2 separate regions of the Homo sapiens genome follow, and region 1 is linked to region 2. Evidence: fine-mapped expression QTL. A gene starts in region 2. The other region holds a variant in brackets. All regions are shown on one strand. Distances are between the middles of the regions. Region 1 overlaps GNG12-AS1 (GNG12, DIRAS3 and WLS antisense RNA 1). Region 2 holds the start of C1orf141 (chromosome 1 open reading frame 141).

What was found.
Region 1: its variant is fine-mapped to the expression of C1orf141 in hippocampus (GTEx, PIP 0.98).

What each region holds. Positions count from the first base shown.
Region 1 is chr1:68,098,736-68,106,735 of GRCh38, reverse strand. GNG12-AS1 (GNG12, DIRAS3 and WLS antisense RNA 1) reads right to left here. Exons shown (of 10, transcript NR_040077.1): 4 at 7,900-8,000; 5 at 6,944-7,007; 6 at 5,962-6,038. It also overlaps a transcript of WLS not described here. Among named protein-coding and RNA genes, the nearest start is that of DIRAS3, 52 kb to the right of the region's middle. The variant C/T (reference allele first, on the strand shown) is at 3,000.
Region 2 is chr1:67,125,885-67,142,713 of GRCh38, reverse strand. C1orf141 (chromosome 1 open reading frame 141) reads left to right here and starts at 7,744. Exons shown (of 8, transcript NM_001276351.2): 1 at 7,744-7,784; 2 at 11,487-11,572; 3 at 15,457-15,548; 4 at 16,805-16,829. The coding sequence starts at 15,474. It also overlaps a transcript of IL23R not described here. RefSeq lists an enhancer at 5,001-5,511.

The sequences.
Region 1 (8,000 bases), 970 kb before region 2:
ACACACACACACACACACAGTGACAAACACATGCACACGCGTTTCCAGGTGCCCCTTGGGTGGGGAAGTGGGAAGCAGTCTGTCTATGCATGAGAAGCACTGAGCTGCCTACACTGAAATGTCTGCCACCATTGAACAGTGAGCAGCAGGTACCTAGGTTTGCAAGGGACACGTTTCTGGAATGGAATTTTGATTGTTTTGCCTCCAATAACCGTATACTTTCCCAGCTGTTGCTCTGTGGGGCTCCCAGACCTGAAGGACACTGGTCTGGTGTCCCAGAGATGCTGTCTTTATCCTCCAAACTTCCCTTAGGAACACTCAAGCTGCAGAGGTCACACACACTGGGAAATTCTGAGGACATCATCACCCAGGCCCACTGAGGGCTCCCTTAGGCCCCCCTCGAAGTACCCTCTGCCCACCCAGCCTCGGCATCTCCTCAAGAGCACTCACTGCTAACTCCCCTCCTGGCCATTGAGTCCGGCTGCCTTGCACTATCATTTATTTCTTTATGAATGGCTCGAAGTGCCTTTTAATAAACCACTCCAGAGTATATATATTATGGATGTATCTACATCTTAAATATAGAGCATTGCTATGGGAGTTACTGTTAGTTGTTTTTGGCTGTGATTCTTCCTAGTCCTAACTCCCCACCAAGAAATTCTGAAATTTCAGAGCGAGGTACTTGATTTTTCATATTAACACTTTGATTGCAGTGACCAATGTTTAGTTTTAGGTCATCATTCTGAAGGAAAAAAGAGAAGTGATTATGTATCACCATCTTTTCTTTTCTCTCATCCCTCAGACCCTTACACCAATCCCATATCCTTTTCTTTTTGGAGCCCGGGGCATTCCTTTTTCCTCTTTTCTCCTGACATGTCTCTGTCCACTCATCTGGTGTTAGGTGTACGGTACTGACATGTTTTCCCTGGATGCAGCCCCAGAACCCAGTCCTGTCTTTCCACCCCTTATTTCTAGCAGTTCAGGCAGGTTCTGGCTCCCTTAATGTGAGGCCAAAATCACTAACACCCCTCACCTTCCAAGAAATACATCTTTTGTGTGTTTCCCATTTATACGTGGTAGGTAGTTTCTTAGTAAACCTTGAGCAGAGTTCAGAGAGAAAATCAAGATGCCTTTTTCATTTGGGTTTTGGACTTCCTGGAAAGCCAAGGACCTTGTAACAGTGATTTCTGCCTTTGTTTCATAGTTTGGAATTTTCAAAGTTGCTACTCAAAACCATTTCTTTCTTTCTGGATTCTTTTTCTACAATGAGGTGGCACCTTGGTTATGGCTTTGTGGCATATAAAACTAGACTTTCCATTAAGAGTGACTGAACTGAATGAGAATTTAGCAAATTGTGTCTATTTTTATAAATCCCTGTTTTAAAACAATTAAGTAGCATAAAAACCAGTAGTACTAAACAATGCAAAAGGGTTATGCAAAGTATAAGCACTCAGGTTAGATGTCTTTTTCCAAAATCTTGCATTGTTACCTCTCACAAGGGCAGTATACTCTTAGGTAAACTACTTATGCTGCTTCAACAGATCAAAGAAAGCAAAACTCCCTGGCTCCTGGCTTTCCTCCAACTTTTCTGTCAATGAATTGGAAAAGAGAATAGACATTAATAAAGGGTAGATCAGACATCTAACCTTATTAAACATGCTGGTCTGGATAAATTAGAGCTGAAGAGAATGGGACCACATAGATACATCAACTATGCACAGGCAGTGACTGCCTAAGACTTCACAGATCAGGATAGGTAACAAAGAACCAGAGACAGGAGGGTGCAATCCCTGCAATCCTAAATTTTATTTTACTGAGACAGGTGTCTTGCTTTTTTGCCCAGGTTGTAGTGCAGAGGCACGATCATGGCTACCTGCATCCTTGGCCTCCCAGGTTCAAGCCATCCTCCCACCTCAGCTTCCTGAGTAGCTGGGGCTACAGGCATGCACCACCACACCTGGCTACTTTTTTAAAAATTATTTTTAGTAGAGATGAGGTCTCCCTATGTTTCCCTGGCTGGTCTTGATCAAACTCCTGGGCTCAAGAGATCCTTCTGCCTCAGCATCCCAAAGTGCTGGGATTATAGGTGCAAGCCATCGCACCAGGCTGCAATCCTGAATTTTAAAATACAGAAGGTGAACTCACAAACTTGACAGCAAAAGCAGGCAAGGAGCTAGGAGGGACCCTGGACACCCATAGTCCCAATAGAGCTGGGCTTAGGAGGGATCATATGATATTGCACCTACAAAGGAGAAATACCCTCCAAGTTTTCACTGATTGTAGAGCTCAACATGAGTCAGCAGTGGGATGCAGCTGCTCAGAGCAAATGTGATATTCAGCTGCATTAATGGAACTATTATGTTTCCAAAAGAGAGCACAATGACCTCCCTGGACTTTGCATAACTAGCTAAGTCTAGAATACTGAGTCATCTCCACCGATAATGGTAGTGATGATTCTCAGAACCATTTTGTATAAAGAAGAGTTTCGTGTGACTTTTCTCCTGGGAAACAGGGTCTGCACTTAGATTTTGCTTTTTTTTTTAAATCACAAACATTGCAGGGCCCCGAGAGACAGAAGCTGTGCATTTTATTCTTAATCAAACACTACATCAAGGAATGTTTAGTTTTCTCCCTACTGCTTCTGTCCTGTGCCTCAAGGTGGGACTCTTCAACGGTCTGGATAGTTCTGGGCCCTTGAGCCAGTGTGGCTTGCTGGGTGTGGGCCCTGTGACAGAGGTAGGGCATGTCTTATGAAGAAACCTCTGTGAGCTCCGCCAGACAGCCAAGTCAAGGAGGAAAATTGTCCCCTGCCCCCAGCACCCCATGTTTCAGTTCAATTTAAGGCAGATCTTCTAACAATCAGGGCTGTTTAAACACAAAATGAGCTGCTCTGGGAAGGAGCAAGTTCTCCATTTTTGGCAGTGCCCAAGCAGCATGTGGGTGACCCACTGAATACTGCTGTGGATTAAGGAAAGGCTTGGCGGGGATGATGCTGGGCA[C/T]GCCTCCAAACCCGACTCTGTGCTCCTATGCTTAGACCACCCTGGCCTCTTCTGATAAGACTTCCCAAATACCTTGCTTCTCCTCATTTGGAGTTAGTATCCCCCTACAAACTACAATTATAGGATTCTGAATCCATTTTAAAATAAAATGGAGTATTTATCCTCTTATCTCTCTCCATCACCACCAGTACAGCCTCCAATCACTCAGCTCTGACCACTTGAATCCATAAGAAGAGAAGAACTGCATAATTTTGTCTTTCTAGCTTTCCTGGTCCATTAGAAGGGCACCGCAGTGCTCCCTCTTTAATCCCTTTAGCTTTTTGGCAAAGCAGCAGGAAAAAACACCTTATGAGGAATGTGAACAGATCACAAGGGGAGCCAACCTGTGATTGTTCTTCTTCACTCACCTGCTTCCCAGTCAGTTCAGTCCAAATCCTTTTGAAGCAAGCACATGAATTGTTGCTACTTTAGGGCAATTACAGGATTTACAGATTAAACATATCCCCACTGGTTTCCCTAGCAACCGTCTTTGAATCACAGGATGAGATAAAACTATTGTTCTAGTTAATAGAGTCTGATGTTAAGAGAAGTCCAGCCATGTAATTCACAGAGGTATGCACCCTGGTGGGAGCAGAAAGAGCGCTAGGCAGGGAGGCAGCAGACCTACGTGCAGGTTCCGGTCCACTGGGGTCAGATACAGAACAGGAACATATCTCAAGACACTGGTGACAGTGCCCCCGGCAAAAAAAAGGGTTCAGAGCACTGCCAGGGGAAGAAAGATGCAGGTGTTTCTAAATGAGTGAAAACATTAGGCACAAAACAATCGAAGGCAAGGGGTCTACTTGGACAAAGCCAAGACACAGTGAGGTCAGGTGCAGGGCCCACTCCTCCAGCTGCCAGACCAGGCAATCAAGCCACCTTGGGCAATGCACATTATTATGTGGCCAGACCTGGGTGGGGTCTGGGAAGGTCAGCTGGCAAGAGGGGCATATGATTTTTGGCTTTTTACCTGTATAATAAGATGCTTGGGTTACATTTCAAGGCCCGTTCCAACTCTTCTGGGTAGTAGAGCTTCTCTGATTCTGAACCAATTGAGAAATAGTCATATTTCAGCAAATACAGATGAATATAGGACCTTTATTGGTTGTTGAGTAGGAGCCCTTAAAGTGGACCTGCAATCAGATGACCTTCAAAATGATACAACCCCAGCTGGGTCTGGACCTGCACATGAGGAGAATTGAGTCTGTGGTGCAGAAACATGGAGGTCAGATGCATGCCTCAAATCAATGAATTCTGGAGAGCAAGAAGAGAGACATCAACCTCCAGATCCCAGGCTACGATTCAACGGTTCTCCCCATAGGAAAGCAGAAGCAATGAAAAAATTGTCTCACAGTCAGCCTAAACAAGAGAGCCCGCTGTTTAGGACCCTTCTCCAACCTCCCTAAGAAGAGAAGTCATTCTTTCCCTTGGGAAGAAGTAAAAAGAGGAAGGGGCAGGAAATAACTTCCCAATCCCCCAGAGGACAGAAAGTCCTGTTACAGGCTGGGAAGAATGCAGGAGGAGAAATGTTTCCTCTAACACAGGGAGGAGGGTGTTGAATGGAATACCAAAGGCATATAGCTGGCCCATGGTAGACACTCCTTACTTGCCCTTGCTTCCCAGGAAACACAAGTCTAACCACCTTCACCTGTGTGTGCAGAGTCTGCAGCTCCCAGCAGCTATAACGAAGGTATTTACTGCCACCTACACACATAGTTCAAAGTCCCTTGGAAAATGAAAATCAACAGTAAGATATTTGATTTCTCTCCCGTAACAGCTAAGTAGAATGAATATATGAAGTTATTGAAATTTTAAGAGCGTATTTTTTGTTTCCCAGTATTTCTCGCTGTAACTATGAAGTTTTATCATTTTCCTTGTTAAAGGAAGAGAAAGTGTGTTTATAAGCGTGTATTTTGCAAAGCCCCTTGCAGCCAGTCTTCCTGAACTTTCACCATTGGGAGACTCACCCCCAATTCATGAAGTTTCTAGATTTCTTGTGCAATATCTCAGAGTTCCTCATTTAGTAAGCAGCATCTTAATAATACCAAGCCCTGTCTTATATTATATTCTGGACAGTGAACGTAGACATATTTGTTTAAGGGTCAGAGAGAGAAGACAGCACTCTCAGGAACACACTAGAGTGAGTGGTTGAATTGGATTCAGCCCTGCAACCCTTCTGTCTTTGTGACGCTTCATGTGATCCTATCGGGACTGAGCTTCAGGTTCTTTCTTTCCAGACATTCCCGTTCCCCTCTACAAGGTAACTAAGTTCATGGAGTAAGAGGACACGAATAAAGCCTTTCTGGGGCGGCCTCCTTTCTTCAAAGAGCAAAGGAAAACTATTTCTCTTCTGATAGGTTGCTGATGCCTATAATAATAATAATAATAATAGCAAATATGATGAACATTTATTGGCCCCTCTCTGCCAGGCATGGTGCTAGGTGCTTTGTATTATTTCATTTCTTCTTCACAACAACCCATGAGGTGTTGATTATTATCATCCCCATGTTACTGTTAACTGAAGAATCACAAGGTTCAGAAACTTGGAGAGGAGAGCTTTACTTCTAACAAAAGGTTACAGCCTGCAGGTGGCCATCCTGATAGGCTGGGAAGCATAGCCTCCAGCAGACACCAAAAGCAGGCACTTCAAGGGAGAGAGGGGTAAAGCAGGAATTTATGCTGAACGGTTTGGCCACGTTTATGTTTACATATTCAGCAGGTTACAGGGGGCAATAAATATTTAGGAAGTGGGGGATGCTCGCATACATAGTAAAGCAAACATGCATGTTGCATGTGTCCCATGTTCATGGTGGGCTGGAGACTTATCAGTGCTTGTTTAACTGCTAGAGTGAAAGAAAAAACCTTGAGGCAGTTACAATATAGTTTATTCCTTAAGAGGAAGGGTGTGTGACTTCATTCTTACCTGGCATGACCTTGGGTCCTGTTTATAATATGGTATCTTATTGCCACAAAGAGTCCATTCCGACAGCCTTATGATCTCTGTTTTGACATTACAGAAGAGAAAAATGAGGCTTGGAGACTCTCAAGTAACTTTGTGTGCAGTCTCACAACTGGAAAGTGGTGAGACTTTTGCCAGTTTAGACAATTCAATTTTAATTTCTAAATTTAAAACCTTTGCCTCCCACCTACCCATTCGCCCTCTTCCTCAAAGTTGAAGATTTACTATATTTAAAGGAACTCTACTATGTGTTTGCATATTCCTTGAGGGTTTGAGTTTAGGGGTCATTCACACCTGATTTATTCTTTGCTCTCTGTCCTTTAGGAAGAAATGAGAGTTTGGGGTGTTATAGAACAGTTGGGAGAAGGTAGAATTTTGGAACCTGTGGACACTCTGGGAAGGAGAGACAATAGGCTGCTTCTCTGCACCCCTCCACAGGCCAGCTCCAGGCCGAGATATTGGCAAGAGCAGCAGAAAAGAACCAGGGGACCAGGATCCTCAACTAACTTGTGGATCCTCAACTAATATGTGAGCTTGGCCCCTAGACTTTCAGTGTCTGGCTGCAGTTTCCTGCACTGTAACACAAACAGATTAGAATTGATGAATGTCAAGTTTCCTCTGAGTTTTCAATCTAGGTAATTCAATTCCACATCTATTAGTGAGAAAAACTGCTGGTAAAAACTGTTTTCTCTGAGAACTTTTTCTGCTTATTTGGCAAATGTTTATATAGTGCTTACAAGTAACTACTGTATACTCTCCTAAGAACTTTATGTGCACCAATTTATCTAATCCTCACAATAGACTTGTGTGGTATTGTAGGTAGTGATATTATCCTGTTATAGGTAACAAGACAGAAGCATGTGGTGATTTGCTCAAGGTCCTACAGTTTGTAAAAGTGAAGCCAAGTTGAATGTATGCAGTCTGGGTCCAGAATCCATGTCCTTACCTTGATATTATAGTCAGTCCTCTGTATCCGCAGGTTCCGCACCCAACCATGGATTGGAAATATTCTAAAAAATTAAAAATAACAATAAAAATGACACAAATGAAAAAATATAGTATAACAACTATTTCCATAGCCTTTATATTGTATTAGGTATTATAGGTAATCTAAAGATTATTTAAAGTATATGGGAGGAGGGGCATAGGTTGCATGCAAATGGTCCCTTATGCCATTTTACATAAGGGACTTGAGTATCTGCAGAGTTTGGCATCCACAAAGGTCCTACAGCCAATCTCCTACAGGTACGGAAGGATGACTAGAGCTTGTTTTTAATCTTATCAACATAGAATTGTGTGTCTGATCAAGTATTCCTCTTTAAATTGACAACCCAGTTACTTCTCAACTTTATTGAGTATACAAGCCCTGGGAGTGTGCGTTTTAGATACTAGGCTCAGCTTTCAGCTTTATTCTGCCTGCCTGTTTTTCTTTCATTCTTCACCCTACCAGATCTTTTTCCTGTCTCTGAGTATATCTCTTTGCAGTTCACCAAAACATCCTTTTTGGAAGATGATAAGACATATAAAAAAAAATAAAAATAAATTTAAAGATGATTCAATGACACAAGCTGGGAATCCTCCTAAGTGGCTTGCTGTATCCCCCAGTGCCTGTGCTGGGCTTTCACAGGATTTGGGAGAGAAAGTGGGGATGAGGGGGGCAGTTCTATCTTAAGATGAACTAGATACACGTTCTCAACAAGGATGGCAGTGCTGCTCGGGAGGTGTTGGAAAATTTGTTGAATGTGGAGGAACTGATTGTCACAATAATTGAGGGAGGAGGTGCTATTGAGATTTAGTGGGCAAGGGAGAAATCTGCAAATGTCCCACAATGAAGGACACAGTCCTAAACAAATTTCAAACACTCCACTAGAAATTTATGTAGGTAAAAATTTTTATAGTTACCTGAGCCTTGGTCCTAAACTCCATGTTACATATTTTTTTAAAAGGATATTTTGCATGGTTTTAAAATATACTGAATTTTCCAGGAATGCAACTCCCATGTA
Region 2 (16,829 bases):
CACACCTGTGGTCCCAGCTACTTGTAAGGCTGAGACAGGAGAATCGCTTGAACCCAGGAGGTGAAGGTTGCAGTGAGCCGAGATCATACCATTGCACTCCAGCCTGGGCAACAAGAGTGAAACTCTGCCTCAAAAAATAAAAAATAAATAAATTTAAAAATATATTTCTGTGTTGCTGTATTTATAAAATACCTGTGAGAGCAGGCCAATGGGAGAGGCTTCAGCTCTGCATAACACAAAAGTGTTTCTGCCATTCCTTTAGGTAAAAGTGCCACAAAACTGGAATAAAGAGTAGAGAAGCATTTAAAATGGGATGGCTACAGAATTTTCTTTTATCCACTCTGAGTTTTTCCATTTTTCATTGGTTTATCTTTTACTTTTAAACTCACCAAATTATTGTTTTAGTCTTTAGCTTTATATAATTTATAAAAATATTCTTTTTAATTTAATTTTTTATCTTTTACTTTTTTGAGAAAGGATCTCACTTGGAACAGGAATTAAAAGAAATTTTAAAATGTGTAAGTGAAAACTCAGTTGTATGTAAGAAAAACCAATTCCCCCTGAGGAAGAGAAAGAGCTGAAGTCCTTTAAAAATTGACTGCCTGTTTTTCTGTGGCTAGTGAGCCTTATCTCTCCCTTTCCCAGCCATCGTGAAGACTGTTTCTCTAGCTGTGCAGCTGCAAGGTCACTAAACAGATAATCTCAAGTCATAAAACATGTTGTTCCTTAAAAAGTAAGAAATAATGTAATGCATGTCTTAATTGAATAACTGTCTTTGTTTCTCCCTTCTGTAATACGCTTCCCCCTGCACAAATCTCCCCCTGCCCCACGAAATGCTTAAAAGGTAGCTTAACTCTGTTTGGGTCTCAGCCCTTTGGATGTTAATCGACTGGGTCCGTGCACCTAAATAATTAAATAATTCCTCCTCAATCCCACGGTCTCTCTGATTCCTTAATTATCCCACTGCACACTCTGTCACCCAGGCTGGTGTGCAGTGGCGTGATCTCAGCTCACTGCAGCCTCAACCTCCAGGGCTCAAGGGATCCTTCTACCTCAGCCTCCTGAATAGCTGGACTGCAGATATGCATCACTACACCCAGGTAATTTTTTTTAATTTTAGTAGAGATGGGGTCTTGCTGTGTTGCCTACGCTGGTCTTGATCTCCTGGCCTCAAATGATCCTCCCACCTCAGCTTACCAAAGTGCTGGGATTATAGACATGAGTCCCTGGACCGGACTTGTAAAAACTTTTTTGAGTGCCCCGTGGAAAGAAATTTCAAACTTTTTTTTTTTTAAGAGGCTTTTGACTTTTCCAGTCTCACAAGAAGAAAAAAGTCTTTTGGCCATGTTGAAGTGTTTTAATAACTTGTTGGCTGCAAAAATAATACATTAATAGTTTCTACTATGAATTAGTCTGTGCATTTAGAAAATACAAAAGTATACAAAGTAGAAAAATATTTCCAAGATATACTTTACCACCCTAAGATAACTATCTTTTGAGGATGTTTTATTACAGATCTTTTTCTTTGAACAGAGACTTATACTTTGTCTTAAAAGAATCATTCTGTGTATAAAGCTTTCTAATCTTATAATTTCTTCAATTAACACAATATCATACACATTTTCCTATGTTATTACGTATTTCTTCATACCTCTTGTAACAGCTGCATCATATTTATCATCCTATGGCTAGACAAAAATTTTGACAAGAAAATCTAAAAATAGTAATTCAGATCATAGGCTTTGGAAAAAAATATAACTGGGTTTAAATTCTGAATCTGCCATTTACTAGATTTGTGATCTTGATCAGAATATTTAATATCTCTAAATTCATTTTTTAATCTATAAAATGAAGAATAAATGAGACAATGTATGTGAAAATGCAATTGTTGACACATAATAAATCTAATAAGTGAGAATTCAATAAATAGATGATAGATGTTATTATCAACTTTTAAATTTTTTACCATTATAAAAAATATTAAATAAAAATCATCGTTACAAGTTTTGTTCATTTCTATGATTAATTTCTAAATATTAATTTTTGGAAGTGAAACTGCTGAGTCAAAGATTAATACATTTTTTAAGGTTTTTACATAAACTGTAAATTCCCATCCTAACAATGTACAGTTCAACCAGTAGAGCATAGATGTGCATCTTTCTCTGTTCCTTTCCCCAGCTTGCCAAGATGATAAGAAAAAGATTATATTTTATTGGCTTAATGTACATGACTTCGACTATGTCATTGAACATCAAATATATAATTAATGATCATTTGTAGGTATTCTTTTATAAAGTGACTATATTCAGCATACATTCTTTTTCATTATGGTGTTTGTCCTTAGTGATTTGCAAAATTTTAAGATACTCTTTGTTTATACACATTTCCAAGTTTAACCTATCTTACATTTTTAATGACTTTTTTTGACATACAGAAATTTTAAATATTTATGAAATCAGATCTAACAATTTTTTACTTTAAATATTTTGCTTTTGCATGCATAGTAAGTGAAGCCTTGCAAGATGCTATCTTAGTCCATTTTCTGTTGCTTGTAACAGAATATCTGAAAATGGGGAATTTATAAAGAAAAGGAATTATTTCTCACAGTTATGGAGACTGAGAAGTGCAAGGTTGAGGGGCCACATCTGGTGAGGGACTTCTTGCTGCTGGGAGGTCTCTGCAGAGTCCCACGGTGGCACAGGGCATCACATGGTGAGGGGGTTATGCTTGCTCGCTTAGGTTTCTCTTCCTTTTCTTATAAAACCACCAATCCCACTCCCATGATAATCCATTAATCTGTTAACCCATAATTCATTAATCCATTCATAAGGGCTCTGCCCTTATGACCCAAGAACCTTTTAAAGGCCCCACCAAGCTGGGTGCAGTGGGTCTTTCCTGTAGGACAGCTACTGGAGAGGCTGAGGTAGAGGATGCCTTGGGTCCAGGAGTTTGAAACTAGCCTAGGCAACATAGCAAGACTTTATCTTTATTTTAAAAAATATAAATTAAGGCCTCACCTCTCAATACTGCCACACTGGAGATTAAAGTTCAACATGACTTTCGGAGGGGACAAATATTCAAACTGTAGCAGATGCTATACAAATGAATATGTTTACTGTTGTGATCTTTAAAAACATAAGTAAATATTAAGTTGTGGTCTTTAATAGAAGAAAAAGACTTATGGGGAAAAAGCCTAGGACTGAAGAAGTCAAATTTTTGTGAATATGAGTTTTCTTAGAACTTATAATCAAGTTCAGGTAGCAGTTTTTGAGCTATGTTGTGTGGACTGTGTGGTGACAGGGAGAGTGCTGGAGGCATAGAAACATAATGAACGTTTCATGTACCTGCTTTTTGCTAGGCACTGTGCTTGGCCTAGCAAAAGTAAATGACTGGTAAATCATTTACTTCTCAGACCAGCCCTCTGAGATAGTTAATCTATCCATTTTATGGTTTCCTTTCATTTGACAAATATTTGTTGAGCATATTATCAGTCTCTAGGCTTACTTCTATAGAAAAATAAATCAGACTGGTTTATACACAAAGAGAACTTACTGGATCATGTTAGCTGAAGAGGTCTAGAGTAGCTCTAAGTTCAGTGATCGCTTGACCCTGGGCTCAAATGATACTGCCCAGGTCCAGCTCTCAGTTTTCTTCCCCTGGATTGACTCCACTCTTAGGATCTTCATAGTGGCTCCCATAGCATAAGGCTCAAATTGTCATAACAGGCAGACTAGAAGAGGAAGTCTTCTTCCCTGAAGGCTCAAAGTCCCGGAATAAAATTGTCTGGGCCCTGACTGGCCTCCCATTAGTCACCTGCTTCTCCCTGAGCCAGTCACTGTGGTCAGGGTGTTGTGATCTCATTGGCCTAACATAGATAACTTTCTCCATCCTTAGAACCAGGGGGCTGCAGAAGTTCTGAAGTCCCTGTGCTGAGGGAACAGCATGAAAAGACACAGATATAAAAAGCCCAAAACTTTGTGAAAATTCCCATTAAGTTACAAGGTAGTCACTTTCTGTACCATGGGTTTGCTGAGATAAAGCTAGAAAGACAATCAGAACTCAGTTCAACATAGAATGGGCTCAGATGGTAGAAGTTCTATATTCTATGCTGCATGGTTTTGACTGAATTTGGAAGGGAATGTCAAGCCTAGGAAGGAAACAAAGGGAGAAAAAAAACACACACACAAACAAGAAAGAATCCCAGGGTACAATGATATTTACAGCAGGCAGAGGAAGAAAAGTAGGAGAGAGTTGTGTAATTGAAGCCAAGGGAAGGGAATGTTTCAAAGAGCCAGAAGTAAAACGTGTCCAATTCAGAAGAATTGTCAAGTAACATAGGACCTGAAAGACGTCCATTGGATTCACAAATAAAAGAGACAGAAGGTCATTAAGTGACCAACTAGCACATTATCTAGAATAAGAGAAGTAATGGGCAGAAGGGATAACAGGTAGTGATCAGAGAGGACCTGTTAGAGCTTAATATTTCAGAGTTAGGGGATAATGAAGTAAAGATAGCTTTAATCTGGAAAGATAATGAGTTTTGAGGCAAAACTATTGGCTTAATGGATTTATTATGGAAAGGAACATTGGGAAAGTCCCCAAATCTGTAAAAGTGAGAAATGCCTGGGAATTTGTTAGTAAATATGTATGGGGAGATAGTTGTCATTAACCTCAGAAGAGGCAGCTTTTCCTAAGGAAGAAGAAACTTAAAGATGTGAAAGGAACATTAGGAATGGTGAAGAATACTGACACTTCTCCCAGGCTTCATGGTTTGTGTAGGGCAAGGGAAAAAAAATGCTCTTTTCTCAAGAGAGGACAGAAGGCAGGGGTGGAGAATCACAGGCTTTTCACCATTTGGGGATGATTAAGTACAAATTTTGATACTTTCTAAACCTAGTAGGTATATAGTAAAGAATTTATAGGAAAGACTCTCTTGCCCAAAGAAAAGAAAGTCCGGCCTTTGCCCTTGCCTTCTGAGATATAATCTCTGGGCCCTAGGAATGTTATGCCTGATAGAAAGAGCTTTATTTGCCTGGAGACCTTGAGTCATATGAGATAGTCTAACAATGTGATTTAGGATGGGGAGGTGGCCACACCTGCATAGTCTTAGAGTAGGGACTGGCCACTCCAGAAAGATCAACAATGTGACTTAAGGCAAGGGCTTTGGGTCACGTGGTATCCATCAACTTGGAGATAGAGATTAACCATGTGGTTAATCAACCGATTATGCCTGTGTGATGAAGCCCCACTACAAACTCTGAACACAATGATTGGGTGAGCTTCCCCGGGTGGCAGATCTCCATGTGTGCATTGTCATTCAACAATGCTAGGGAGTAACCTGTCCTGACTCCACAGGAAGAGGACAATAAAAGCTCCACATTTGTTATTTCGGGACTGACTCTGCCCTGTGAACTTCTTTCCTTGGCTAGTTGTAATCTGTAACCTTTCCCTGTAATAAACTATAACCCTAAATACAATAGCTTTCAGTAAGGTCTGTGAGTCTTTCTAGCAAATTATCGAACCTGAGGGTTCTATTCAGGGTTTTGACGGCCCCCTGAACTTGGTGTCAGAAGTAAGGGCAGTTTTGGGGAATGTGCTTTCTAACTTTGTAGTTGGCCTACTTCAAAGGAAGCAGGAAAAAGTCTGCAGATTTTATTTTCTTTGTTTTCTTATAGTATACAGTTTATATTTTAAGAAATCTGTATACTTTTAAAATAAAACATTCATTAGGCTCCTTTACCCAGTATTTATCTATAATAGGTTCATGAACTCATTCAGTAAATACTGAATTTAACTGAGAGCAATTAAAGTAGTTAGGAAAAAATCCACTTGAATTCTTTTTTGTGTACATTTACCAAACATTTGTTATTAAAGAGAAAATACTTTGTACTTTGTGTTATATTAATAATTGTATTACTAATTATAAGATGCTGGGCAAATCACATAGTTTCTTTGAATTTCAGTCAGGTCTTTTCTAAAATCAAAGATAATACCCTTTCCATAGATACGAATTAAGGTTTAAGAATGAAAAGTAAAGGATGAAATTAGAACTATTTTAAAGTTGTAGCCTAGTACCTGACATGCAGAACGTGTTCCATAAATATTAACTGAGATAATGATAATATTCTAAGAATTTCATAAGATTCATGCTTTACAAATTTTATTGACTGAAGATTAATGAGTAGCTAACGTTTCTGAACTGAATTCTTAAGAAGCTAATTTTCACCTCTGTACAAATTTTTGAGCTGAAGGTATTACAACAATCTTAGACAAATCACCACTATCAACTAGATTCCAGTTATCAATTCCATACAAACCATTGTTCCTGAATGTATATGGCTTAAAAAATATAATAGAATCAAGCTACCTTGGCCAGTCGCAGTGGCTACTCACATCTGTAATCCCAGCACTTTGGGAGAACAAGGCAAGAGGATCACTTGAGACCAGAAGTTCAAGACTAGCCTGGGCAACATAGTGAGACCCCTGTCCTTACAAAAAAATAAAAATAAAAAAATTAGCCTGGCATAGTGGCATGCACCTGTAGTCCTAGCTACTAGGGAGGCTGAGGTGGGAGAACCACTTGAGCACAGGCGATTGAGGCTGCAGTGGGCTATGATCACACCACTGTGCTCCAGTCTGGGCAACAGAAAAGAATCAAACTACCTTCTACTTTTAATGATTGTATTTTTGTTTTTTAAATATTTGAAATAAATTGATTCCAGTGTTTTCATGCATTGACTATTAATATCAATTTCTAGCCAAATTTGGATTGCTACATAACTATACTTTTTTTTTTTTTTTTTTTTTGCAGTTTTGCCATTGCCACTAGCACAGACTTGTGATGATTAATTCTGGTGCTTTTTTTCCTTTTCTTCTCACAGATGTTGAAGTGCTGTTTTTTAAAGCTTTTCCCCCTATTTTGATGCATCAGATAAGGTACATTCTTGGAATGATGAACAACCCCTGACTTAAAATGTAACCAATATTGTGAAATTCCCCATCATTTTAAATTAAATACAAGCTGTTTTCAAGTCAGTCATTTTTAGATTATGGCTCTAAAAATAAATGATTCCCATGGCCTTAGTGCATTTTCTGCTCACACAAGTGAGCAATAAGGACAAATGGTTCCTTAGGATACAGTAAATACAGCAGAATGTATGTCAGTGTATCTCCATTATGTCTCATAAAAATGCTAAGTGGTATGTGTGTGTGCAGCCAAGTCTGCTACACAACTTGCGTAATACAGTGGTGATTTTACTAACCACACGGGAGGTTTCTTGGCCTTGGAAATAAGAATGGTTTTTTGTTGTTGCTGTTTTTAATATCATAAGCCATGAAAGCAATCTTCCATCAAATATTCAAATATAAACTGTTGACTTCCATTCAGACCTGCAAGCTGTATGGTGGACTTTGTAAGCTTCTTTTTGAAATTCGATGTTTCCAGGAAAGCACAAAAGGAGAAAGGAGGTACAATAAGGGGAAACAAAGTCACTGTTCCCCAGTTCTTTTTACTTGATCTTCTTCTTTTACTTGACTCTCCTTCCACTCCTTCAGCATAATCGGTTTTAATATCCGTAAGCATCTGGGGAGTCACCTGGGCTTTTAGTGACAAAAGTCTGTGGGCGAAGCCCCTCTGAGAAGAGAACTCTGCTCTCTAGGCCTTTCAGAGGTAGGCAGAGCTCGGCAACCGGTTTCTACGGACCGAGGACGCGTTGCTAAGGGACTGAAGGGTGGGGGCGGGGCGAGTAACCCGCGGAGCCAGAAGAGGGAGGAAAGGAGATGAGGTTTGTTTCAGGGTGCGGAAGGGTTGGAAGAGTTGAAAATCAAAATTTGCATGAGGGTGGGAGGCGAAATAGGAAAAACGTCGTTTTACATAAACGGCCTTTCTGTCCCCGGAGTCGGTGGGACGTTCTCCAGCGGGGCCTGGACCGGGAGAGTGTGGTTGAGGTCAGGCAAGTGTGGGACCGCGGCGAGAGGCGAGCCCGGGGGGCTCTTCCAGGTTCGCGGAAGAACCCTTTGCATCTTCTAAACTAAATATTAATGAGCTTCCTCAATGTTGCCCTTAATTTTGCTTTCCCATGAAACGACCATAGGCATAGAGCGTTTGAGTCGGGCTTCCTATGTTTCCAGCGAGATGGAGGCACCTGGGGGAAGGTGACTCGGGGCCGGGCAAGAGATGCGAGAGGCTCTGGGGGCCGCTTAATTGATACATTTCCAAATTGACGACTCCCAACATCCTGGAATGGATGGTGGAAGCTGATCGCCCCTGCGGTAATTGTGCTGCGATTTCGAGCTGGCTAATCAATTCTTGCAATCATTATCTGATTAGTCGCCCACAATAATACTCCACAATCCACGTACATCATAGTTTTAAAATTCCTTAGTAGTTTTTCTTAGAAACTTCCCTTCCAGGCCGGCGCGTTGGCTTACGCCTGTAATCCCAGCACTTTGGGAGGCCAAGGCGGGCGGATCACTTGAGGTCAGGAGTTAGAGACCAGCCTGGCCACAGTGGCGAAACCCCGTCTCTACTAAAAATACAAAAATTAGCCGGGCATGGTGGTGGGCGCCTGTAGTCCCACCTACTGGGGAGGCTGAGGCAGGAGAATCGCTTGAACCTGGGAGGCGGAGGTTGTAGTGAGCTGAGATCGCAGCCACTGCACTCCAGCCTGGGTGACAGAATCAGTGAGACCGTCTCAAAAATAAAAATAAATAAATAAGGGACAAGAAAATGCATAATGCGGAACTAAGCACATAGGTCGGGTTTTTAAATTAGTTCTCAGTGCCTGGGCTGTACTAGCTTGCTGGGACTGTCATGACAAAACATCATAGACAGAGTGGCTAAACAACAGAAATTTGTTTTCTTACAGTTCTAGACACTAAAAGTTGGAAATGGAGAGGTGGGCAGGGTTGTTTTCTTCAGAGGCCTCGCTCCTTGGCTTGGGGTGGTGGCTGCCTTCTCACTGAATCTTCACAACGACTTTCCTCTGTGTATCCTCGGTGTCCCAATCTCCTCTTCTTATATGACACCAGTCATACTGGCCAGAGGCCTACCCTAACAACCCCATTTTAACTTTACTCTTTAAATGCTGTATGTCCAAATACAATCACAGTCTGAGATCCTGGGGCCTAGGACTTCAACATACGAATTTAGGGGCAACATAATTCAGCCTATAATATGGGCCATTTATCAACATTTTAGATTTAAAGAAAAAAGATTCCCCTAAGTCTATCCTTGGAATGTGAGATGGAGATAACTCAGCCAGTTATCTAATTATTGAGTAAACATTAATCATTTAACAGATGAAGTGAGTCCCTACTGTGGTCTCAGTAGTGGACTGTGTCAGATAAGAGTGTAAGAAGTGGCCTCGTCCTCAAGGAGTAAGCATTTGAACTGATAAAGCCACATAATGGAAGTGAATTTTAATTTAAGCCTGCATTTTCTAGATAATTTCTCAGGCCTTTAGTTTGTAACTTTAGAGATTCTTAGTTTTCCTGAGTTGTTTAGAACTTGCTGAAGAACTCTTCTCAGCTGAGCCTATTATATTGACGACACTGGGTTTTGTTATTTTTTGTTTGTTTGTTTTTAGTCCCAAAGGTGCTGTTAAAATAAAATTGTTCTCTTAAAATATTTAAGACATTTTTATTTTAGATATGACTTAGTCTCTGATATGCTAATAATATTGACCTACAATTTTTGTTGAGAGCAAGTTTTTGCAGTGAGGCCTGTAGATGATTCACTGTGAGAGTAATTGGGAATTCATTCTGCCCCAATTGGCATGGCCTCTATTTCATTGTGTTCTTTAAAAACAAACGAACAAACAACAACAAAAAACTGTCACTACTGTGCTAGAAATTAAGAACATAAATCCAAGTTTCCTTTCAAAACAATTTTACCAAGTTTAGATTGGCAATAACCCCATTTTATAATAATACACTCAACTTTTTATTTCATCTTCCAGTAAATCATTATGAAGTAACATCATTTATTACAGATAAACTAGGATTACTCTTCCTAAAAATTTATATTCAGAGACATCTCCAAATTAAATTGTAATTTTCAAATCCCCGTTAGATGTAAAACGCTTTGCCTGAGGCTGAGAGTCGGAGGTGGATAAGTCAATTCTTGCTTCAAATGAGCTTTCAACCCAGTAAGGAAGAGATCTGTCAAAGAGTAAACCTCTTTTTTTTTTTTGAAATGGAGACTCGCTCGTCACCCAGGCTGGAGTGCAGTGGCACGATCACACCTCACTGCAACCTCCGCCACCTGGGTTCAGGTTATTCTCCTGCCTCAACCTCCAAAGTAGCTGGGATTACAGGCGTGCGCCACCATGACCAGCTAATTTTTTTTTGTATTTTTAGTAGACACAGGGTTTCACCATGTTGGCCAGGCAGGTCTCGACTCCTGACTTGAAGTGATCCACCTGCCTCAGCTTCCTGAAGTGCTGGGATTACAGATGTGAGCCACCACGCCCAGCGAGTAAACCTCTTAAAACCTGGTGTAGTGGCTCTTGCCTGTAATCCCAGCTACTCAGGAGGCTGAGAGGCTGGAGGATTGCTTGAGGCCAGGAGCACACAATAAATAGACTGTCACCGAGACAAGGAATGAGACAATGCCAAGGAAAGTTTCATAGAAGAGGTAGTCATGACTGGGCACTGTAATCCCAGAACTTTGGGAGGCCGAGGTGGGCGGATCACAAGGTCAGGAGTTTGAGACCAGCCTGGCCAATATGGTGAAACCCCATCTCTACCAAAAATACAAAAATTAGCTGCGTGTGGTGGCGGGCACCTGTAATCCCAGCTACTCAGGAGGCTGAGGCAGGAGAATCACTTGAACCCGGGAGGTGGAAGTTGCAGTGAGCCAAGATTGTGCCACCGCACTCCAGCCTAGACTGCGAGACTCCATCTCAAAAAAAAAAAAAAAAAAAAAGAAGAGGTAGTCTTCATACCATATTTCATAAAGAGTAGGCTTTTGACTGGAAGACATGTGGGAGAACATTCTGAGTAGAAGGAAATGCAGGAGTGAATGGTGTGCTTGAGAAAAGGGCAGGACGTGTCCAGGAAGTAAGAGTGGTAGAAAATGGTGGAACAGAAAGGGGAAGGAGGAATAAACTAGAAAGGTGGGCTGAGCCAGATCCTGGACTATCTTTTCTTGGATGGTCTCATATGTCATCTGAAGAGTTTGGGTATTCTTCAGGTTATGAGAGCAAGCCAAGGTTTGTGGGCTGGAACTGGTCCTGATCAGTGTCCTGTTTAAGAAAGACAGCTCTGATGGCATTGCGTTTGTTTGTTTTTGGTTTTTGAGAAGGAGTCTCACTCTGTCACCTAGGCTGGAGTGCAGTAGTGTGATCTTGGCTCACTGCAACCTCCATCTCCCGGGTTCATGGGATTCTCCTGCCTAAGCCTCCAGAGTAGCTAGGATTACAAACATGCACCACCATGCCCAGCTAATTTTCTTTTCTTTTTTTGTATTTTTCTTTTTTTAATAGATTTCATCATGTTGGCCAGCCTGGTCTCAAACTCCTGACCTCAAGTGACCCGCCTGCCTCAGCCTCCCAAAGTGCTGGGATTACAGGTATGAGCCACTGCGCCCAGCCCATTTAATATCGTCTTGATTCATTTTGCATTAAAAGATTAGTAGTTAGTTTATGCAAAGTAGTTGGGGAACACCATCATATTAGTACTGATGTTCCTTTGCTCTCAGCATTTATTTGAGGAGACACAAAATAGGCCCTTGATGAACTTATGAAATATAATGATGAAAGCAAGCAAGTTAATCTATAGTGTTTCCTCACCTCCACTTTTTCCCAGGGCCATTTATCCATTAGGCACCATTGGCACATTGCCAAAGACCGATGGGAGAAAAGAATTTGCAAACTGAAAAAATTGTATTAGTTTCAAAATATGAAATTAATACTACAAAACTAACATTCAGTCAATTTCATTAACCGGCAAATTTAGTATTCATAAAACTGTTGTTGACCCTTGAAAATAATTGGTTAGTTTTTCTCACTTCAAAAAAATTCATGATCTGCACAGTGATTTTCCAGAAATCATTCATAGCCAAATAATTTACTCTTAGCAAACTATTTTTAAAGCAAAAACATAAAAATTATTTCATGCTATGGTTAACTGTATATAGAAAAATACAGCTGTGTGTGCATGTGCGTGCATGTGCGTATGTGTGTGTGTATAATGGGATGACATTTTGCCTCTTAAAATGTCCTATGTGGTGTTGAAGATGGGGTGACTAAAAGTGAGAGGTGTAGGACACCTTACTGTAAAAAGATCTGCTTTCTGTTCTTTCTCACAAATGAGCAGCATTGTTTCAGCTGGCCCTCATGTAGTTTATACGTTCCCCAAACTGGGAAACTCATTCACTTCAATACATTGATTCTTCCAGTTATTTACCTGTGTCTTGCTGAAAAATAGAAATCTTTGTCTCCAGTAAAATAAACTTAGGTGGGGAATATGAAAGCCTTCTCCCCCTCTTGAACTCATATTATGTTTAAGGGAAACACAAAAGCTAAAACTCCTCGGAGAGTTTTAGTTTAGTTTAGTTTTACAAGAGGGATGTTTCTTGGGTCTGAAAAGAAAATATGTCCACATAATCATAATGTATGTTCTCTTTCAAAATCTGTCCCCTATTGTCCTGTAAGAAATCCAGAAAGTCATCAGCATTCACATTATGCTAATGCCTTTACCCTGTCAATGTCAAATAAAATATAGAGACTAATCTCTAAAATCAAAATATTTATTTGGGAGGAAATAATTGCAATTAGGGCATACACACAGAGCAGTAGTCTTCAGTATATTCTGAAGAACAAAGAATAGGTTAGAGGTTTTATAAAACCAGGAAATGTTACAAATTGGCACTAGTGAGGTTTTGAGGCACTGACAAGATTGGTAAGTGAAGGCTGTGGGCAAAATTGGTTTAGAGTTGCCACAGGTCTTTTCAGTAGCTATTAGATACAACTGGTTTAGGTCACAGCAGTCAATTTCAGCTGCCAGACTTGCAGAGGGACTGCATTTTTGGAGCGATGTTCTGTGCCCTGAGTGTTTTCTCTTACCCTGGCTTCTCACTGTGTTTTAGTTAGGTACCACAAGAGTGACCCATTTCATATGATCAGCTTTCACAATCCTGGATCTCCCCTTCCCAGTGTGCAACCTGAGGTTGTGTGGTTCGTCACAAGGCAGGCTATCTGCTTGCACCCCCATGGCCCAGAATTTCCTCTGTGTAATTTTTTTTAAAGAAATGGGGTCTTGCTCTGTCACCCAAGCCGGGGTGCAGAAGCATGATCATAGCTCACTGCAGCCTCAAACTCCTGGACTCAAATGATCCTTTTGATTCTCCCACCTCAGCCTCCCCAGCAGCTGGGACTATAGATGCATGCTACTGTGCCTGGCTACTTTTTTTTTTTCTTCATGAGATGAGGTCTTGCTATGTTGCCCAGAGTGGTCTCAAACTCCTAGGGTCAAGCAATCCTCCTGCATCAGCCTCCCAGGTAGCTGGGATTATAGGCACACACCACCACACCCAGCATGTCTGTATACTTTATTTATCACACTGGACTACATCGTGTGATGGAGGGAAAATCTGGATGTAGTGACGTGATAGAGGGCATGCTGGGATGGGATGTCATTCAGTACATGAAGAAATCATACTCAGGGCAATGTATGGTGAAGGAAAAAAGAGTAAAAAAAAAGCTGAAGGAAACCAATTACAAAATAATGTAAACTTTTGGCATCGGATCCTGAATCTTTCTCCTTTCATGAACTGTTGTCTCCATGTGGCATTGCTGGAATAATATACAATATAGGAGAAATATCAGAGATTTTTCTGAGCTGGAAAGAACCTTAGTATTAACATTAATATTCATTGAAAACATTGATGATTCTGTACTTTCTGTGAACGATATCACTTTTACACTTAAATGCCACTGGAGCCCATTTAATTCAGTGAGCAAAAGTATACTGAATGCATGGTCATCTACACAATTTTTTTTTTCTTTTTGAGACAGAGTCTTACTCTGTCACCCAGGCTGGAGCACAGTGGCGTGCCATCTTGGCTCACTGCAACCTCTGCCTCCTGGGTTCAAGCGATCCCTCCTCAGCCTCCCAAATCGCTGGGATTACAAGCATGTGGCACCACGCACAGCTAATTTTTGTATTTTTAGTAGAGACAGGGTTTCAGTATGTTGGCCAGGCTGGTCTTGAACTCCTGACCTCAAGTGATCTGCCCGCCTCGGCCTCCCAAAGTGCTGGGATTACAGGCATAAGCCACTGTGCCTGACCCATCTACTCAATTTTTAAAATAAATAAATAAATAAATAAATAAATAAATAAATAAATAAATAAATAAAGGGAGCTTTGGGTTGATATTCCTGGATTCTTGCCTCCACTCTGCCCTAGCTATTTCTATTACACTAATAGGGTACTCTGTGGCCTTCAGTTTTCTCATCTGAAGATGTAATAAATTAGACCAGGTTCTGATGTCTCATACAGCTCCCTAAGCTTAATATGGACTGCTTGACCTCAGATGAGACGGTTAGCAATATTAATTAACTAGGAAATATGAACCATTATGGCAATGGGACCTAACCAGCTTAGTTGCTGCTACTTATGTGTGACTAATTGCCTGCTACATGCTGTTAACAGTCTTGGATCATTGACCAATTTAATTTGAAGCAATTAATTATATAAATATGAGTTCCCTGTGTTTACTTTCATTAAAATTATATCATGACAAAAAGAAAACAGATATGTCCAAAGTCCTACTCCTGGCCAGGCACGGTGGCTCATACCTGTAATCCCAGCATTTTGGGAGGCTGAGACAGGCGGATCACTTGAGGTCAGGAGTTTGAGACCAGCCTGGCCAACATGATGAACCCCTGTCTCTACTAAAAATACAAAAAGTAGCTGGGCATGGTGGTGCACACCTGTAATCCCAGCTACTCAGGAGGCTTAGGCAGGAAAATCACTTGAACCCAGGAGGTGGAGGTTGCAGTGAGCCAAGATCACACCACTGCACTCCAGCCTGGGTGACAGAGTAAGACTCTGTCTCAACAACAACAACGACAAAATTAAGTCCTACTCCTAGCTTGATATATTTTTAATTAAAAAAATTTAAAAAGAAAATAGATATAAGTCAAGCCACATGGTCTTGCTTCAAGTATAAGTCACATATGGTTCTCATGGTAATCGTGAACTTTCTCCCCCTCACCTTTATCATAAATTTAAAAATTCATGGGGCCTATACATATCTGGGAGTTCTGATCATATAGCCTTCAATTGAAAAAACTTGGGTACATTTACAATTCTATGATTTACTGTATGATTTAAACAATTCTATTATTTACCTAAAACAGTAATGTAAAAGTGAGTCTTTTGAAAACTTATGCCTAGTTTTATGTTTAAATTTGAATTGATTTGTTCTTCTTCCTCCTTATTTTAAAATAGGAATTTAGTGATTGACAATGGCAGAAAAAATCCTAGAGAAGTTGGATGTCCTTGATAAGCAAGCAGAGATAATCTTGGCCAGAAGAACAAAGGTTTGTGACGTATAAGCTACAATTCAGTTTAATCATTAACAGGTTAACATTTCAAATGTGAATAATTTTACTTTTTAGCTAATGATACATTAATATGATATAAACTAATTTGTAAAAAGCAACTAATTATACTAGTTGAAAATGTAATGTATACAAATATAAAAATTTTATTGCTGATGTACAAAGTTTCAACGAATCATCCCATGAAGGGCTTTTGGATTGTTTTGACGATTTTACTAGTAAAAATAAAGCTGCTTAAAAAATAAAATAAAGCTGCTATGGACATTTGCATCCAGGTTTGTATGAACATGAGTTTCCATTTCTCTGAGGTAAATGCGTGAGAGTGTGATTGCTGGTGCGATCTTTCTCTTAACTTTAGCGAGATCAAAGCCGCAAGATTTGGTTTGAGTTCCCCCAATCCAATGGGTTTCTCCTCCCTGCACCTCAGCCCTGAAACCACCTCCAGGAAGTAAGCTGGGCTATTAGAGGGTAGACCTCAGTTATTTCCCTTCTTTCAGCGATCTGTCCTACTCTGTTTTCTAATAGCTGGGGGCAGTTGTTTTCATATATTTTGCCTGAGCTCCTAGTTGTTGAGAGCAGGAGACTAATTCCCATAGTGCTCCATCTATTGGCAGAAGCAGAAGTCCCCCATATCCTTTGATTTTGCTTTCAGGGTTTTCATCTCTTTATTCTTTTGAGCTATGCTCTGAGATAATTTTTTAGAGAAAACTTTCGGCTCCTTTACTCACCTTTTAGCTAGATCCTTTTTCTTCTTCAATCCATTTGTATAAGGATTTTAACAAAGTCCTCTTTTGATTACTTTCTTCACTCTATTTCTGGCTCTCACGACTAGAGGAAGATTGGTGTGATTCATCGTGCGTGTGGCTACAGGAAGAGGAGCAGGCTGGAGGGACATGCCTACTATGGTTCCAAGAACTCTATGTATCTAAATATGTAGATCTTTCCTTAAATTCTGTACTTTAGAATTAGGAGGGAGCCTTAATAATCCTCAAGTCCTACCCCCACATTTTACAGATGGGAAAAGAACAACTCAGGTCACACAGCAAAGGCATAAAAACAGTTGGTGCACTAGACCCCCAATTTTCAGTCTGTACTATTTTTCCATTATTGCCTGCCACCTAAATTCTGTGTGTGTGTGTGTGTAAAGTGAGATTTTTTTTCTTTCCACCTAAGATTTTCCCCATATAAAAAGTACTCTTTTTTTTTTTTTTTTTTTCACTTTGGCATTGCTGCAGATAAACAGGCTTCAGAGTGAAGGAA